Regions from separate parts of the Homo sapiens genome. Here region 1 is linked to region 2. The links come from fine-mapping of genetic effects on gene expression. A gene starts in region 2. The other region holds a variant in brackets. All regions are shown on one strand. Distances are from middle to middle. Region 1 holds the start of TNNT1 (troponin T1, slow skeletal type). Region 2 holds the start of TMC4 (transmembrane channel like 4).

What was found.
Region 1: its variant is fine-mapped to the expression of TMC4 in tibial nerve (GTEx, PIP 0.96).

Annotation. Positions count from the first base shown.
Region 1 is chr19:55,147,693-55,150,589 of GRCh38, forward strand. TNNT1 (troponin T1, slow skeletal type) reads right to left here and starts at 1,514. Exons shown (of 14, transcript NM_003283.6): 1 at 1,469-1,514. The variant C/CT (reference allele first, on the strand shown) is at 1,695.
Region 2 is chr19:54,171,458-54,174,333 of GRCh38, forward strand. It overlaps TMC4 (transmembrane channel like 4), which reads right to left and starts at 1,703. Exons shown (of 15, transcript NM_144686.4): 1 at 1,582-1,703; 2 at 413-626. The coding sequence starts at 1,660. It overlaps MBOAT7 (membrane bound acylglycerophosphatidylinositol O-acyltransferase MBOAT7), which reads right to left. Exons shown (of 8, transcript NM_024298.5): 8 at 1,958-2,876. The coding sequence ends at 2,587. RefSeq lists enhancers at 1,826-2,642, 2,643-2,876.

The sequences.
Region 1 (2,897 bases), 980 kb after region 2:
GGATCTGAGGGAGGAGGGGCCAGGGGCCTGGACGCCTGGGTCTGAGGGAGGAGGGGCCGCGGGCCTGGACGCCTGGGTCTGAGGGAGGAGGGTCTGGGGGCCTGGCCTCCTGGGTCTGAGGGAGGAGGAGCTGGGGCCTGGACTCCTGGATCTAAGGGAGGAGAGGCTGGGAGTCTAGACTCCTGAGTCTGAGGGAGGAGCGGGCTGGGGGCCTGTACTCCTGCGTCTGAGGGAGGAGGGCTCAGGTCTGGACTCTTGGGTCTGAGGGAGGGGGCCGGCTGTCCTAAAGCATGCATGAGGACAGACCTTGGTAGGTGTGGTCCTGGCACAGCCAGGAGGCTGCAGACCCTGCCCCCTCAGCACAGCTGTCCTCTTTTGTCTTATGACAAGTCCATGGGAACCTGATCCAGTTGGGATTAGGAAGAGGCATTTGAGAAGGGACAGTGGCCTGAAGACAATAGCTGCCCCACCCCCAGGAGCTATTTTGGGGGGATGTCATAGATGGTGAAACCGAGGACATTTCCTAAGAAGGGATTTGAGGAAGGGGGGCTTCTGGGAGAATTAGTCACCCGCATCCCCTCTCCCACTCGCCCCACCCCACTGGCTGGTTTCCTCCCCACCTGTCTCCCCTTTCACCTTCCCATACATCACGTAGGGGGCAGGGGCATAAAGGGCACCTTCTGTCCGTAGACCTCACCCTGACCCCTACATTCTTAGACCTCAAAGTCTTTGAGACACCCTAGGCCACAGGGTGCCTAGCCCCAAATCCCAATACCCACAGATTCTGAGACCCCGATTTATGATGCCCGTGTTTCTGAGGCCAGCAAGTCCTCACAGCTCTGGATTCTGAAATCCCAGTTCTTGATAGTCCAGATATGGGCCGGGACATCCTAAGACCACCCCCAGGTCTTGAGACCTCCTAAAATCTGAAACCTCAAGAATATGAGACCCCCAAAATCTTGATACCCAAACTCGGAGGCCCAGTTCATGATACCCCAGATAATGGCACTCTAAGTTTTCATGCTTTCTATCATAATGTCTCAGATTCCGAGCCCTCCACTACCAAAACCCCAATTTCTTCTGAGACCCCCCCAATTCCTGATACCCTCAGAGTCTGAGGCCCCAAATCCTGACACCCAGATTGTTTGACCTCCAAGTCCAGATATCCCTGACTGCTGAGATTTCCCCCAGATTCCCAGAACCCCAAGATCCTAGGAGGTTTTATTCTGGGACATCCAAGTCCTGGCAGCCCCGGGTTAGGATTTGTGTAACCCACAAATCCTAGTATTTTCCCCTCTATCCTGAGTCCCCCTAAAGTCTGAGCCTCTCAAGTTCCCAGACCTCCAGTTGTATGCCCCACCTACCTCTGCACCATTTCTCCACACCCGACATCTTCCCCACCTGCCTCCTGCCCCCTCCCCCAAGGACATGGTTTTTGAAGACCACAGGGCTCCGCAGAGCCCCTTACCTAGGCTGTGTCTGAGATGCTGTGAATCTTGAGGCTGAGCCTTGCTGAGGGCACTGAAGCTCCGGGGAGTTTATAGCTGGAGGCTCGGGCCCGCCCCGAGGGGAGAGGGAGGGGGAGAGAATTCCTTTGCTCAAACACAAGCCTGGGAGTTCAGAGACAGCCCTGCTGCCCCTGGCTCCACACTCAGAGTCCAGAAGCCTCCGTGGGCCCCTCCCCAACCCCATGC[C/CT]AACCCCATCTGCATGGCCCAGGAGCCCCGCCCCTGCTCCCACCCCACACCCCAGGCTCCCGTGGTGCTCCAACTACCTCCCTTATAGCTCCCTGTGCTTTGACGTCCCCATGCCCGGCACACAGTAGGTCCTTGGAGGACCTACTAATGACACATGGGCTATAAGGAATGTTTCCTGTTTTCTTCTCTCTGTTCCCTCTTTCTATCTAGGTCTCTTTCTGGACCCCCATTTCTGTTGTCTCTGTGGCTCTCCATCTGTGTGTCTCTGTGTGTCTGTCTCTACTTCTTAGTCTCCTCCTCTGTCTCTGTCCATCTTTTTGTCTCCTCCTCCCACCCCCACCCCTTTGTCTGCCGCCAGGATTCCATCCTGGTGACAACAGGCACTAAAGCCGGGAAGCAGGTGTGGGGAGGGGGAGGGGGAGGGTGGGGTGTCAATTAGGGTGAAACCTACCCTCCCTCCCCACCTCCATCTAACGCTGATCTTTTTTGGTATCCCCCTCCCGCTTCCCAGCCAAGCCATGACCTTGAGTTCTAGGTTCAAGCCAGCCCTGGAGAGCAGGCTTCCTCACCCTCCCCGCCTCTCCGTACCTCTGTCTCTGGTGGTCTCGGTCTTTGTGTTTCTGTGCATTTCTCGGGGCCCCTTGCTGGGTCTGTCTTGGGCTCTCTCTGCATCTGTCGCTTTCTGAGCCCCTCAGTGTGTTTCTCGGCATGTGTCTCCGGGTGGTTTTGTCTCTGCATTTCTGTGGGTGTCTCTGCATGTCTGCCCCTCTCAGCGTTTGTGTCTGTGGGGGCTCACAGTCTCTCTGTGCATTTCTGTCCACCTATGACCCCATTTCTGTCTCTTTTTGGCTCTGGGTCTCTGTGTCTGTGTTCACGTCTCTATCTTTCTAGTTCTCTCCATGTCTCTCTTAGTGCCCGCAGTTCCCCCTCTGTGGCTCTCCATTTCCATCTCTTATAGGGTCTCCATGTCTCTGCACCTTGCTGTGAGTATATCTCTGTCTCTCTTTTCTCCTTTCTTTGCACTTCCTTCTATGCATCTTGTGGTATTTTCTCCCTCTCTCTTTGGGTCTTTGCCTGGCTCCTACTCTCTCTACTCCCAACTCAGTCTCTCTGTTGTCGGTCATGTCTCTCTGCCTGTCTGTTTCTCTGTGTCTCTCTCTCTTTGACCTTTAGTCTTGGCATCTCTGTGCACTCCACATGGGC
Region 2 (2,876 bases):
CCTGCAAATTATGCAGTGAGAATGGGAAAAGAAAGAAGTTAAAGAGAGGGAGGCTTGGAAGAGGAGGCAAAGATGAAGGAAGGTATAAAGCAGAGAGAAATAAATATTAACAGATTTTGGACACACACACAGAGAGAAACTGAGGCAGAGACAGGATTGGTGGAGACCAGGGAGACGGCAAATCCCAGAGAGAAGAGACCCCAGAGCCATCGAAAGGCAGCACTCACCTGGAGTCCGAAGTAGAGACAAAGATGAGGGGAAGAAAGAAACCAAGAGAGGCAGCTCTGAGCGGGGCAGAGAGAGGCCCCAGAAGCCAGGAGCGGCAGAGGACAGAGGGAGGAGACCGAGTCCAGGGTATGGGAGAAGGGCCCGGTCCGGGCTGTGCGGGTCCCAGCTGGAGGTGGGGCCTCACCTGTGTGCCCGTCTGGCCTGCATGGGCCAGGGCAGTTCCCGGGAAGGGTGAGGGTCCTGCAGCTCTGTCTGGGTGACTTCTGTGAAGGCCTTTCTGCTCCTTCCTCCATCCTCCTCCTCCTCCTCCAGCGCCCCCCAAGGCAGCACCCCAGGGTCTCGGTACCGAAGGGTGGCAGCACTGGGCAGCTCGTTCAGCACAGAAGACAGCGATGGGCCTGGGGAGGAGCAGGGGGCTGGGAAGACCCGGGAGTCTGGGCCCTAATTCCTCCTCCCTCAGACCAGGAAACCAGGTCCCCGGCCCCTCCTCCCTCAGACCCAGGAGTCCAGGCCCCCGGCTCCTCCTCCCTCAGACCCAGGAGTCCAGGCCCCCGGCTCCTCCTCCCTCAGACCCAGGAGTCCAGGCCCCCGGCTCCTCCTCCCTCAGACCCAGGAGTCCAGGCCCCCGGCTCCTCCTCCCTCAGACCCAGGAGTCCAGGCCCCCGGCTCCTCCTCCCTCAGACCCAGGAGTCCAGGCCCCCGGCTCCTCCTCCCTCAGACCCAGGAGAACAGGCCCCCGGCGCCTCCTCCCTCAGACCCAGGAGTCCAGGCCCCCGGCTCCTCCTCCCTCAGACCCAGGAGAACAGGCCCCCGGCCCCTCCTCCCTCAGACCCAGGAGTCCAGGCCCCCGGCTCCTCCTCCCTCAGACATAGGAATCCAGGCACCCAGCCCCTCCTCCCTCAGACCAGGAAACCAGGTTCCCAGCCCCTCCTCCCTCAGGCCCAGGAGTCCGGGTGCCAGCCTCTACTTCCCCTGGACCCAGGGGTCCACAGCCCTCAACTCCATCCCCAAGCGTGGAACCCTCCTACTCCAGGGCAGTGGAGTCCAGGCTTTAACTTCCTTTTCCCTCTAGCTCAGGAGTGTGGGAACCCAGCCTCTCCTATTCCCAAGACACCCAAACTCCCAGCCCTTAGCCCTCCCCTCCTCCCAGACTAGCCTGGTTCTCCAGGCTCCTCCTCCTCAGACCCTGGAGTTCCAGCCTCCAGTTCCCTTCTCCCCCATAATATCAGGAAGTGGAACCTTCTCTCTTTAGCCCTCAGACTCAGGAGGCCAGGCCTCCCCTTTCCTCCTCCAGCAGGACTCCCACCTAGCCTGAAGGTCGGATGGATCTGAGCTTCTCCTGGCATTCCCTACCTCCTCTGGCCTCCCGGGGGGCCAGCCACTCCCTAGAGGAGCCCCAGGCTTCTGATTCCAAGGTCGGGTTTTCTTCCATGGCCCCAGGCTGGGCTGTCTCTAGTGGCCACCAGGCAGACACTGCCCCAGGTAAGGGAGGGGCCAGGGGCAGGTGTGTACCTGGCCAGCAGGTGGCCCGGAGGGAGTAAGGTACACTTCCTGTGGTTTCTCAGGGCCGCTGATGCGAAAGGTCTCCTGGGAGCTGAAGTCCCCGTGGTGCCCCGGGCCTCACAGTTTGGTTCCTGGGCTGGGCGGGGGGGCTGTACCTCACCCTGGGACTTGGTGGACTAAGTCCTTCCCACCGTTTATCACCCAGATACCTGCACGGACACGATGCCTTTGTGCAACACTTTATTGGGAAAGATTTACACACGGTGACCTGTCATAGGCCAAGCGATGAGAAGAGGGCGCCAGGAGTGCTGGGGTCCCGAGGTGGCTCAGATGGAAGCCATGGGACGGCCGTCCCCAGGCCCGCGCACCCGCACCTCAGTTTCCCCTTTGTGAAATGGGAAGCTTATGCTTCCTTCCAAGTCTGCAATATTGGTGCGATGAGCTAAAAGTGGAGCGAAAGACACAAGGAAGAGGCTTCCCACTCCCAGGACCTGCCCCCAAGCTCCGACCCCACATTGTGGATGCAAAGAAAGGGAATTTGCCCAAAACCCACTGCCCAGGGGCCCCTTCCGTTTTGGGGAAGTGCAGTGCTCTCTGGATACCCAGAAGCTGGAGCAGGGGCCAGTGACTCTTGTCTGGACAATACTTTGATTTTGTAGGAGTGGAGGTGGCCTCTGGGCAGAGGGCAGGGAGGACACCCCCGGGTCTGCTTCAGTTGCAGGCAGGGTATTTAGCTGGGGAAGAGGAAATTCTCTCCAGGACCCTCTCCAAGGTAAGGACTCTTTCTGGGGAGGAGACAGCAGCCTGGTTCACAGAATTCCCGGGACCAGCTGGCAGAGGGAGCGTCGTGACAGCTTACTCCTCCCGGAGCTTCTCCGGGGCAAGGCTGGTGGGCTGGGATGCTGCCTTCCGCCGGCTGGGGCTGCCCCCACCTAAAGCCAGCCCCAGCCCCAGGGCTGCCAGGGCCAGGAAGTGGATACAGAAGTAGATGGAGGCCCAGTACCGAAGGGTGTCGGCCAAGGAGAGCAGCACGAAGCCCATGCACATGTAGTCATAGGCGCGCATCTTCAGGAACCAGTGCACCCAGTCCCAGGCCTTCTGGCCCCCTGGGCTCAGCCGCCCCCGCAGGGCTGACTCCAGCCGGC